3 separate regions of the Homo sapiens genome follow, and regions 1 and 3 are each linked to region 2. Evidence: fine-mapped expression QTL. A gene starts in region 2. Each other region holds a variant in brackets. All regions are shown on one strand. Distances are between the middles of the regions.

Region 1 (4,242 bases), 85 kb before region 2:
TTTAGGATAGTTAGCTCTTCTTGTTGAATTGATCCCTTTACGCTTATGTAATGGCCTTGTCTCTTTTGGTCTTTTTTGATTTAAAGTCTGGTTTATCAGAGACTAGGATTGCAACCCCTGCCTTTTTTTTTGTTTTCCATTTGTTTGGTAGATCTTCCTCCATCCCTTTATTTTGAGGCTATGTGTGCCTCTGTACATGAGATGGGTTTCCTGAATACAGCACACTGATGAGTCTTGACTATTTATCCAATTTGCCAGTCTGTGTCTTTTAATTGGAGCATGTAGCCCATTTACATTTAAGCTTAATATTGTTATGTGTGAATTTGATCCTGTCATTACGTTAGCTAGTTATTTTGCTCATTAGTTGATGCAGTTTCTTCCTAGCATTGATGGTCTTTACAATTTGGCATGTTTTTGCAGTAGCTGGTACCGGTTTTTCCTTTCCATGTTTAGTGCTACCTCTAGGAGCTCTTGTAGGGCAGGCCTGGTGGTGAGAAAATCTCTCAGCATTTGCTTGTCTGTAAAGGATTTTATTTCTCCTTCACTTATGAAGCTTAGTTTGGCTGGATATGAAATTCTGGGTTGAAAATTCTTTTCTTTAAGAACGTTGAATATTGGCCCCACTCTCTTGTGGCTTGTAGGGTTTCTGGCGAGAGATCAGCTGTTAGTCTGATGGGCTTCCCTTTGTGGGTAACTCGACCTTTCTGTCTGGCTGCCCTTAACACTTTTTTCCTTCATTTCAACTTTGGTGAATCTGACAATTATGTGTCTTGGAGTTGCTCTTCTCGAGGAGTATCTTTGTGGCATTCTCTGTATTTCCTGAATTTGAATGTTGGCCTGCCTTGGTAGGTTGGGGAAGTTCTCCTGGATAATATCCTGCAGAGTGTTTTCCAACTTGGTTCCATTCTCCCCATCACTTTCAGGTACACCAATCAGAGGTAGATTTGGTCTTTTCTCATAGTGCCGTATTTCTTGGAGGCTTTGTGCGTTTCTTTTTATTCTTTTTTCTCTAAACTTCTCTTCTTGCTTCATTTCATTCATTTGATCTTCAATCACTGATACCCTTTCTTCCAGTTGATCAAATCGGCTACTGAAGCTTGTGCATTCTTCACATAGTTCTCGTGCCATGGTTTTCAGCTCCATCAGGTCCTTTAAGAACTTCTCTGCATTGGTTATCCTAGTTGGCCATTCGTCTAATCTTTTTTCAAGGTTTTTAACTTCTTTGCGATGGGTTCAGACTTCCTCCTTTAGCTCGGAGAAGTTTGATCATCTGAAGCCTTCTTCTCTCAACTCGTCAAAGTCATTCTCCATCCAGCTTTGTTCCATTGCTGGTGAGGAGCTGCGTTCCTTTGGAGGAGGAGAGGCACTCTGATTTTTAGAATTTTCATTTTTTCTGTTCTGTTTTTTCCCCATCTTTGTGGTTTTATCTACCTTTGGTCTTTGATGATGGTGACGTACAGATGGGGTTTTGGTGTGGATGTCCTTTCTGTTTGTTAGTTTTCCTTCTAACAGTCAGGACCCTCAGCTGCAAGTCTGTTGGAGTTTGCTAGAGGTCCACTCCAGACCCTGTTTGCCTGGGTATCAGCAGCGGAGGCTGCAGAACAGCGAATA[T/C]TGCTGAACAACAAAGGTTGCTGTCTGATCGTTTCTCTGGAGGTTTCATCTCAGAGGGGTTCCCTACTGTGTGAGGTGTCAGTCTGCCCCTACTTTGGGGTGCTTCCCAGTTAGGCTACTCGGGGGTCAGGGACCCATTTGAGGAGGCAGTCTGTCCATTCTCAGATCTCAAACTCCGTGCTGGGAGAACCACTACTCTCTTCAAAGCTGTCAGACAGGGACATTTAAGTCTGCCTAGGTTTCTGCTGCCTTTTGTTTGGCTATGCCCTGCCCCCAGTGGTGGAGTCTACAGAGGCAGGCAGGCCTTCTTGAGCTGCAGTGGGCTCCACCCAGTTCGAGCTTCCTGGCCGCTTTGTTTACCTACTCAAGCCTCAGCAATGGCAGGCACCCCTCCCCCAGCCTCGCTGCCACCTTGCAGTTCGATCTCAGACTGCTGTGCTAGCAATGAGTGAGGCTCTGTGGGTGTGGGACCCTCTGGGCCAGGCGTGGGATATAATCTCCTGGTGTGCCGTTTGCTAAGACCATTGGAAAAGCTCAGTATTAGTGTGGGAGTGACCTGATTTTCCAGGTGCCGTCTTTCACAGCTTTGCTTGGCTATGAAAGGGAATTCCCTGACCCCTTGCACTTCCTGGGTGAGGCGATGCCTTGCCCTGCTTCGGCTTACGCTCGGTGCACTGCACCCACTGTCCTGCACCCACTTTCCGACACTCCCCAGTGAGATGAACCCGGTACCGCATTTGGAAATGCAGAAATCACCTGCCTTCTGTGTCGCTCACCCTGGGAGCTATAGACTGGAGCTGTTCCTATTCGGCCATCTTGGAACTGTGCCCCCGATAACTGATCATTTTTAGACTCTTCTGTGTTCATGCCTTCAAGGACTTGCAGATGTCAGAATAAAGATAACCAACTGACAATGATCTCTTGCATTTCCTCCTTACCCTTTTCAAATAAACATTACCTTTACCTTCTTTTTAAAATTCTATCAATATTGGCAGGGCGTGGTGGCTCACGCCTGTAATCCCAGCACTTTGGGAGGCCAAGATGGGTGGATCACGAGGTCAAGAGATCGAGACCATTCTGGCCAACATGGTGGAACCCCGTGTCTACTAAAAGCACAAAAATTAGCTGGGCATGGTGGTGCGCACCTGTAGTCTCAGCTACTCAGGAGGCTGAGGCAGGAGAATTGCTTGAACCCGGGAGGCGGAGGTTGCAGTGAGCGAAGATCACGCCACTGTACTCCAGCCTGGTGACAGTGTGAGGCTTAGTCTCAAAAAAAATTATATCAATATTAATGTCCTGATTTTTATTGATATATAATAGTTGTACATATTTTGGGGGCACATGTGATATTTTGATATATGTATACAATGTGTAATTATCAAATCAGGGTAATTGGGATATCCATCACTTCATTTATCTTTGTTTGTATTGGGAACATTACAATTTTTTTCTTTTAGCTTTTTTGAGATATACAATAAATTATTGTTAACTATAATTTCCCTCCCATACTATTGAATGCTATGACGTATTTCTTCTATCTAACTATATTTTTGTACCCTTAACCAAGTTCTCTTGTTCCCCTCTCCCCTCTTCCTTTCTCAGCCTCTCATAACCACAGTTTTACTCTCTATCTCCATGAGATCCAGGTTTTAGCTCCCACATGTGAATAAGAACATTGTCTTTCTGTGCCTGGCTTATTCACATAACATAAGATCCTCCAGTTCCATCCATGTTGGTGCAAATGACAAGATCTCATTCTTTTTTAACGGCTGAATAACATTCCATTGTGTATATACACCACATTTTCTTTATCCATTCATCCACTGATGGACACAAAGGTTGATTCTATAGCTTTGCTATTGTGAATAGGGCTGCAATAAACATGAGTGTACAGATGTTTCTTTGATATACTGATTTACTTTTTAAAAATATGTATCCAGCAGTCGAATTACTGTATCATATGTTCTATTTTTAGTTTTTTGAGGAACCTTCATACCATTATCCATAATGGCCATACTAATTTACATTTCTACTTACAGTGTATGAGCATTCCCCTTTCTCCACACACTTGCCAGCCTCTGTTTTGTTTTTGTTTTTGTTTTTTTGTTTTTGTCTTTTTAGTAATAGCCATTCTAATAGATGATATCTCACTGTGGTTTTGATTTACATTTCCCTGATGATTAACGATGTTGGGCATTTTTTTGTATACCTCTTGGCTATTTGTATGTCTTCTTATTTTTTACTTAAAAATTTTTTTTCCTTTTTTTTGTCTTAGTTCATTTTATGTTGCTTATAACACCATTTGTATGTCTTCTTTTGAGAAATGATTATTTGGGTCTTTTGACCATTTTAAAATCAGAGTATTTGTTTTTGCTTTTTGCTATTGATTTGTTTGAGTACCTTATGTATTCTGGTTATTAACCTTTTATAGGAGAGATTGTTTGCAAATATTTTCTCCATTCTGTGGGTTGTCTTTTCACTTTGTTGACTGTTTCCTTTGCTGTGGCAGAAGCTTTTTAGCTTGATATAATCCCATTTGTCTCTTTTTGCTTTAGTTGCCTGTGCTTTTGAGGTCTTATGCAAAAAATCTTTGCCCAGACCAATGTCCTGGAGCATTTCTCCAATGTTTTC
Region 2 (4,242 bases):
GAGCTCAGTGTTTGCTGTGAAGGAAAAGCTTATAGGTGAGAGGAACACTAAAATTATAATTCTTTGTCTTCCTTAATTAGACTAGAGCTCACCATAGACCTTGCTGAAACTGTGAGAAAATCCAAGCAATAATTCACACTGTCAGGTCAGCAGAAATGGGAATGCGGGTCTGATATAACTGAAAGATTTGCTTAAGTGATCTATCTATGAACTGAACCGCTCAGAATAGGCACACGATCTTCACTGGAAATGTACCCTCTGAAGATGCTAAACACAAACAGCAATGAAAATAAATCCCAGCAAGAGCCTTATACCACCTTTACAGATGTCATCCTAGAGGAAGGATATAAAGCATATTAATACCAATTGATGTAGGGCACTAATTAATAAGTCCCATTAAATCATGGAGTAATGACATTTAGCATGTAATGAATGCCTCATAATTTCTTCATCATTAATATTTCATAGCATAAGAACACAAGCATTTTCATCCCTGGGCCAGTGCAGCATGGTTTTCTGTCTCTGACATGACCACAAGGGCATTGAGTGGCACGAGTGTATTGCACCTCTGTGGTATAGACTGACTATACCGCACAAGTGATTAACTCTTAGCACCCCGGGTCCTAGCGTTTCCTCATTTTAGAAAATGTGAATCTGCCTGCCATTCTTGGAAGTAACCTCTGTGACTGGAAGATGGAAGAACTGCCCCAGGCTCAGGTGTTGACTTTGGTGTGTAGCATTGCTTTGCTGTTGACCCCCACCCCCCAGCCCAAGAAGGAAACCTGCACAGGAGAAAATCATTACTTTGATTTATTACTGGGGGCTTGCTGTATGCAAAGGCAATAATCACCTCATGGAGCAGGTGCCACTGCCAGGGTTCATTGATTCCAGGCTCTTCTAGAAATTCCAGGAGGCCAGTCAGTCTGGCGGGAGATGGACGTAGTCAACGAAAAAAGAAGTCCATCTCATAGCAGGTTGAAATGAAGTGGGAGAAAAATCTCTGGTCATCGTTCTATCGCTCCACTGACACTCGGTGTCTTTTTCTTTCAGAAGAGGGGCTTGAGCAGAGAGAATGCTTAGAGGCTAAGCGATGGGCAAGTGAGAGGGAAAGAGCCGCGACAGATAGAGCTGGCTGCCTAGGGGTCTCAGAGGCTTCATCCTGCAGGCGGCAGGCGGCAGGACAAAGGGACCTTCGGACTCCAGATCAAGATTCCAAGGAGTTAAACGCTACCACGCAGCCCGACCTGGATGGGATTTGCTCCTGGGTACAAAACGGGACACTGATCAAAATCAACTTGGACAAGTGACAAGAGTGAGTCTTATGTCGGTGGATGTCTTTTAAGGTCGTTGGAGGGAAGAGGACGGGAGGGGTGTGCCGAGGGGTAGGTGGAGAGAGGCACCGAGTCCAGAGCCGGGATATAAATGCACCAGGAGCCGGGGAGCAGAGGAGCAAATGAGTGGGGGAAAGTGTGAGAGGAAGAGTTGGAGAAAAGTCGGGGGAAAGTAGGGACAGGGTTAAGGGGAGAGAGGAGGATGAGGGCGGCGAGGAGAGATTAAAAGGGGAAGGGGGGTCGCTGGAGAGGAGGGCGGACTGTGGATCGGAGGTAGGGAGAGGGGCGAGAGGAGTGCGCGGGGTGGGGGGCGCCGGGGCGAGGAGAGGGGGCTGGGGAAGAGGAGGGGGGCAAGAAAGCGAGAGCGGCGCGGGGGAGGGCTAGGAGCCCGGGGGCCGGGCCGGGGGCGGGCGGGCGGTGGGAGGCGAGATCAGGCCAGGGGAGAGGGAGCGAGCCGGGCCGGGCTCGCAGGGCGAGGAGGCCGTAGGAGGGAGGTGGGGGGCAGGTGGGGGGAAGAGGGAGGGAGCGGGCGGAGAGCTGGGGCCAAGTGCATTGTGTCTGGCGGCGGCGCGCGAGCCCACCGGCGGCTGCGGCGGGGCGGGAAGCCATGGAGCCGCGGGCGCTCGTCACGGCGCTCAGCCTCGGCCTCAGCCTGTGCTCCCTGGGGCTGCTCGTCACGGCCATCTTCACCGACCACTGGTACGAGACCGACCCCCGGCGCCACAAGGAGAGCTGCGAGCGCAGCCGCGCGGGCGCCGACCCCCCGGACCAGAAGAACCGCCTGATGCCGCTGTCGCACCTGCCGCTGCGGGACTCGCCCCCGCTGGGGCGCCGGCTGCTCCCGGGCGGCCCGGGGCGCGCCGACCCCGAGTCCTGGCGCTCGCTCCTGGGGCTCGGCGGGCTGGACGCCGAGTGCGGCCGGCCCCTCTTCGCCACCTACTCGGGCCTCTGGAGGAAGTGCTACTTCCTGGGCATCGACCGGGACATCGACACCCTCATCCTGAAAGGTGAGCGGCGGGCGCACCCCGCGTCCCCGGCGCCCGCGCGTGGAGCGCAGCCCGCGGCTTCCCAGGGGCGCGCCGGTCCCCGCAGCCCCCTCCCAGCCGCGGCCCCGCGCCTGGGCATTCTTGCATCCTTCCCGCCGCCTCCAGTCTTTATCTCTTCCCTTTCTTTCCCCACTGCCTCCCTTCTTCTCCCTCTCCTTGACTCTCTTCTTTCGTCCACATCCTGCGCGTCCTTTCAAGTCCGTGCCGCACCTCCCGCCTCTGTCTCCTTCTTTCCTGCCTTCGCCTCCCATTCCCCGGTTCTCTCTCTCTCCCCGTCCTTCTCTGCCTTTGTACACCTGCCTGACATGTGTGTCTTTTCTTGACGCTGCTCCCCGTGAGGGGGACTAACCGTCAAAGACTCGACTTTTCTCACCCGGGCTCCTTCCTTCAAGTTGTGCTCCTTTTGGAAATACCGTTTGGAAGAAAAGTGGTGCCGACCTCCGAAGAGAGGGAAGGGGCTTTGCCTGTATTGTGCGGATGCTGGTGTCAGACGGAACTGATGTGGTCATCCCAGCCTGGCAGGGCTGATGGGCAGCGAAGGAGGCCCCGGAACCTTCCTTCATACCCCTGAAGTGCAGGGTGTGTGTGGATTAGACTTCAGAGACCAATCGTTGGCTGGTGGAGGCTGGTGGAGGCTGCCCGAGGCAGATAGGACACCTGCTTTCCAACCTTCCTGAGGACCCCATACCCCCACCCTCCTCGCTGTCCAGGCACTGAGGAGAGAAAATGTCCTCGCCCTTTAAACTAGAGCTTTCCAGATTTGGGCACTCACTCTCTGCTTATCACTCTGTCTTCTGTTCGTGGTACCTTGTCAGGTTGTTTTTGTTGTTTGTTTTGTTTGGCACTGAGTTGCAGAGCATCAATTTGTTCTTCTGAAATCTGTGCAACACCTGTCTTCTGTGAATGCTATCAGATAGTTTGATTTTTTTTTTTTTTTTGGTAATCCCATTCACGTAAAAATATTCAGTGTGACAACTTGTGAAGCTTCCTTTAACTTTCAGAACTTGACTCAATGTATTTTTTTCCCCTTTGAGATTAAAAAAAAAAATCAACATCTCTTCTCTTGGACTCATGATGCCAAAAAAGAAAAAGTCCAAAATCAGTACATTTTAATATTTAGTAGCCATGTAGGAAAACAAACAGACGGATTTGTGTTGAGTTACAGCCTGGAATGGAATGACATAGAAAAGAGGGGGTTAATAATGTGTTGGCCTTCAGAGTCTTGCTAGTTGGCGGATTCTTCATTTCTCAAACATGTCAACTTCCTCCTTCCCATGGCTAACTCAGCTGGGGACTGCCATCCAAAATCTGTCTGCGTGTGGAAGGACTCCAGCACTTTTAGGGGAACCAGATACAGTAAAATCTTTTGGGAAGTGCACCATTTTCTTTTCTCTCCTAACTTGCATCCAAATCTGATTTCTCCTCATGAAGATGCTGCATAATTAATTCTGATAGTAGCATAGTACATGAACAAACTGTAAAAGCTGAATGTGGAGGCTCAGTTATGGAGTGCTCATTTAGGCAAGGCAATTTTGAAAGCTAAGCAGTGTAGTCTGTCTTTGGAAATGACAGAACTGCATTTCCTTACACTTTCTATGCTTAGAGTATTTGATTGCATGTAAATTGGATATAGAGCAATGCCTGAAACAGCAGGGCAGAGTCAAACCTACAGTAGAAGAGGGGACCCCCACAGGATATTGCACAATGCCTCTGCAAATGCCCTGGCTAACTGAGGTGCCAGTTCCAGGGCAGTCCAGGGTCAAATAATAGAGGTGGAAGGACTTTAGAGGTCATTGAAGTTGAACATCTACTGGTTGTTCAAATTCCCTTCTACAATCTTTCTGACAAATGGTTGTCTAGCCCAG
Region 3 (4,242 bases), 140 kb before region 2:
CAGCCCAGGTCTCTTCTTTGAGCTTTAGATCCATGTATCCAATTTCCTACCTAATACTTTCATCTGGAAGTTTCACATGCATCTAAAACACAACATAGCCAAAACCAAACTCTTGATTAATCCAAAACCTTTTGCTGTTCCCTATGTCACCCGCATTGTTAAGCAGGCCAGAACTTGGAGTCACCATGACCTTTCCCTCTGCCTTACCCTTCACATTCAATTTTGCTTCCTAAACCTCTTTGAATCTGTACTTTTTTCCCTACTTCCACTCCCACTATCCTAGTCTAAGCTACCTTCACCTCTTCCTGGATAACCTTAAAAGCCTCTTTATTGGTCTATCTGCCACTGTTTTGACCTCCACCTCCCACAATGTATGCTGAGTGAGTTCTTCATCTGATTTTCATGTCTTCCCTGAGATGTTTAAAATGTTTGCATGCCCTCCCATGATTTTAGGATGCAACATTCCTTAACATGACCATAGGCCCTGTACCTAGCCAGCTTTAGATCAAACCATGCTCTGCTTTGCTCTCTTTACTCCAACCACTGTGGCCTTCTTTCACTTCTTTTTTTTTTTTTTTTGAGATGGAGTCTCGCTCTGTCACCCAGGCTGGAGTGCAGTGGTGCGATCTCTGCTCACTGCAAGCTCCGCCTCCCGGGTTCACGCCATTCTCCCGCCTCAGCCTCTGCAGTAACTGGGACTACAGGCGCCTGCCACCACGCCCAGCTAATTTTTTGTATTTTTAGTAGAGACAGGGTTTCACTGTGTTAACCAGGATGGTCTCAATCTCCTGACCTTGTGATCCACCTGCCTCAGCCTCCCAAAGTGCTGGGATTACAGGCGTGAGCCACCGCGCTCGGCCTCTTTCAGTTCTTTTTACCTGCCACGCTTCCTCTCACCAACTGCTCTTTGTCCAGAATGCACTTACTTCTGTAAGTTTCACCCTTTCTTCAAATCTCAGCTCAGTTATGGCTTCCTCAGGGCTGTCTTTCTTGACCTCTCTGACCAGGGCAACTCTCTACCATATGGCCCTGGGTACTTCTCCTTCAGGTGCTGATCACAACTGTCATTTTATGTTTCTTGGTGTCATTTTTTGGTTGAAATATATTTCCCACTGAATATGACTCCATTAGGGCAGGAACTGTGCCTGGTTTCCGGGGCTTAGAACCAGTACAGTGCCTAGTGCATAGTAAGTGCTCAGTAAATGCATTTGTTGAATGAATGAACAAATAAATACATCAATAAGTACAGACGTTTGTTTTCTGTATTCCTTTGGCTCCTTCTTCTTCTTCTTCACCCTACCCTTTGTCCAGGCCTTGGGACTTCAAATCATGGATTTTTTTTTTTTTCTTGAGTCAGAGTCTTTCTCTATCGCCCAGGCTGGAGTGCAGTGGTGCGATCTCAGCTCACTGCGACCTCCGCCTCCCAGGTTCAAGCGATTCTCCTGCCTCAGCCTCCCGAGTAGCTGGGACTACAGGCACCCGCCACCATGCCCGGCTAATTTTTTGTATTTTTAGTAGAGATGGGGTTTCACCATGTTAGCCAGGATGGTCTTGATCTCCTGACCTCGTAATCTGCCCGCCTTAGCCTCCCAAAGTGCTGGGATTACAGGCGTGAGCCACCGCACCTGGCCAAATCATGGATTTGGTTTATATGTCCAGTGCCACCACTGGGCCTGCTTCCTATTCTGGGTAATGAAATGTATGAGATGCTGAGTAGCTTTTGGACACTTCCTTTGTAATATATTTTGCTCTCCTGCAATAATTTTGTTATTATCAGGGTTCTATTCAGGAGTACAGGCTTAGGTAATAAGACAGTGCCACCTGAGGAAGGGTGCTCCTTGACTTAGAACAATAAGATAATGAAATTGGAGGTAACTTTTGGTAATCATTTAGTC[T/C]AGTTTCTCAAGCAAGGCAGAGATTCTTTATGTACCACTTCTGACAGATGATAATAATGTTTATTGAGCATAGTCCAGTTATTGTCTTAAGGATATTGATACAGATGAATCCTTTTAATCCTTAGCGACCATATGGACAAATACAGTTACTATCATGCCCTTTTTATAGCTGACGAAATAGTGGAATGCCTCATCTAAGACCATGCCTCGTCTAAGTCAGTAGCATAGCCAAGGTGCAAGCCCAGGCAGTTTGGCAGAGCCAGAGATTTTCACTGCTATGCTATGCTATGCTGTGCTGTGCTGTGCTGTGCTGTGCTGTGCTGTGCTGTGCTGTGCTGTGCTGTGCTATGCTATGCTATGCTATGCTATGCTATGCTATGCTATGATATGCCACTTCTGTAGTTAGCCAACGGTTATGTAAACACTTCCAGGGATGGGAACCCACTCGATGGTGAGCTGAGTACTTAGGCTAAAATTGTCTCCTATAACTTCAAGCCGTTTTCCCTAGTTTCAGCCTCTAAAACTATATGAAATAGCCTGCTCCAATGTCCATAGGACAGTTATTAAAATAGGACAGTTATTAAAATACTTTCAAATTCTAAGAGTAGTTTTTCTGTTCATAAAAATAACATATGTGAAAATTTGGAAAATCCAGAAAAGTATAAAGAAGATAAGAACCCTTGATAAACTGGGAGAAAATAAGTATTAACTGCCAAGAGTCTATTAGCTTTTTGTTATAATTTTTAACATTCATATTTCATTAATGGCCCATATAAAATCTGTGGCCTACCAAAACACCTAGTTCTCTGTCAGATGACCTTCCATCAAGCCAGATTTTGTCTCTATATAAAATTCTCTCTCTCTGTCTTTTTGTTTGAGACAGAGTCTTACAGGCTGAGTGGTCTTTAAATCATGGATTTGGTTTATACATCCTGATACAAAGACAGAGTCTTATAGACAGGGTCTTACAGTCTTACAGGCTGGAGTGCAGTGGTGCAATCTTGGCTCACTGCAACCTTCATCCCCCAGGTTCATGCAATTCTCCTGCCTCCTGAGTAACTGGGACTACAGGCGTGCACCACTATGCCTGGCTAATTTTTGTATTTTTAATAGAGATGGGGTTTTGCAATGTTGGCCAGGCTGGTCTCGAACTCTTTGCCTCAAGTGATCTGCCTTCCTCGGCCTCCCAAAGTGCTGGATTTACAGGTGTGCACCACTGTGACCAACCATAAAATTCTTAATGTAAAATTTTACACTTATCCCTTTTAAATTATATTTATTTGTTTGTTTTGATTCTTCTGTCTTACTGAAAACTTTTCTAATCCAGATTCTGCTTTCTAATGTTAGCCTTCCAGCTTCCAAGATACTATGTGATCTTGATAACAGGGCTTTTCAAACCTTTCCCCCAGGCATTGCTAAAATGCTAAGCCCTGTGACACATACTAGGAACCTCCCTGTAGGTTCACATGGGTCTATTCGTCAGCCATTAATTTGGCCACTGAAGAAAATACAAATCTGTATAACTGCATTTTCACTGAGCACATATATATTTTTTTCACCTTTTCTATGATGATTTCATGACTTAATGAAATATGTCACCAAAATTGGGTATGTTTCATCTATGGAATTTCTCAACTTTACTGGTATAGTAAGTCTTTTTAAAAATAGGATATCGTTTTCTTAGTTAGCTTACACTAACTCTGAATAATCACTTCTTAATTTCTAAGTGTTCACAAATCATTATCTAAATATTAATACTTCATTCTAGAACTTTCCTGGAAATCATACCAATCTGTTACTTCAACTCTTCACTGCAGTTGAAATAGCTATGTGCAGACATACTGGCCCTGACTCACATTTAATGGGGCTGAAGAAATGATCCCGTGGGTATTCTTTCTCCTTCAGGAGATCAGCTTCCTGTCAACATACAGGAAACTGAAAAGCTGCAGTCTAATAATATAGCCACTGACAGGAAGATTGTTGTTTAGATTGCCTTTCCAGATTTCTCAATTGAATAATGCTGGTGAAGGATGACTGCTTATTTTATTTATGACTTTGGATCAACTACAAGGATATCTGACTTTACATAGTAGATGTGCTGCTTCAATGATGCATATAAACCACTTTTTTTGTAAGTCAAATTCCACCTAAAATGTACTAATCTGGGAGTTTACTTTTAAGGCCATCTTGTGGTGAGACATTTTATAAAGTGAAGAATTCTTTACTGATTTATCTGTTTGCTTGGATTTTAAAGATCAGGGTTGCTTAAAGCAAGGTGAAATTATACTATTTCTTTATTTTTAGAAAAAGTAGGCTAGCATTATCTTTTGTGAATGTCACCTTGAGC

Alleles and levels. Positions count from the first base shown, and alleles are read on the strand shown. Sizes are in standard deviations (SD) of each study's normalised expression. Not every link is listed here.
For the expression in left ventricle of the gene that starts at base 1,881 in region 2, T is the low allele of the variant in region 3 and C is the other (small effect, 0.26 SD a copy in GTEx).

Evidence for each region. PIP is the estimated chance that this variant, and not a neighbour inherited with it, causes the effect. A credible set is the group of variants that fine-mapping cannot tell apart.
Region 1: its variant is the best candidate, but not a certain one, in a credible set for the expression of TMEM178A in lung (TOPMed, PIP 0.76).
Region 3: its variant is the best candidate, but not a certain one, in a credible set for the expression of TMEM178A in left ventricle (GTEx, PIP 0.79).

Annotation. Positions count from the first base shown.
Region 1 is chr2:39,578,722-39,582,963 of GRCh38, forward strand. All of the region lies in intron 5 of MAP4K3-DT (MAP4K3 divergent transcript), which reads left to right. Among named protein-coding and RNA genes, the nearest start is that of TMEM178A, 85 kb to the right of the region's middle. The variant T/C (reference allele first, on the strand shown) is at 1,612.
Region 2 is chr2:39,664,037-39,668,278 of GRCh38, forward strand. It overlaps TMEM178A (transmembrane protein 178A), which reads left to right and starts at 1,881. Exons shown (of 4, transcript NM_152390.3): 1 at 1,881-2,338. The coding sequence starts at 1,939.
Region 3 is chr2:39,526,713-39,530,954 of GRCh38, forward strand. The region is part of intron 5 of MAP4K3-DT (MAP4K3 divergent transcript); the gene reads left to right. Among named protein-coding and RNA genes, the nearest start is that of MAP4K3-DT, 91 kb to the left of the region's middle. RefSeq lists an enhancer at 598-657. The variant T/C (reference allele first, on the strand shown) is at 1,896.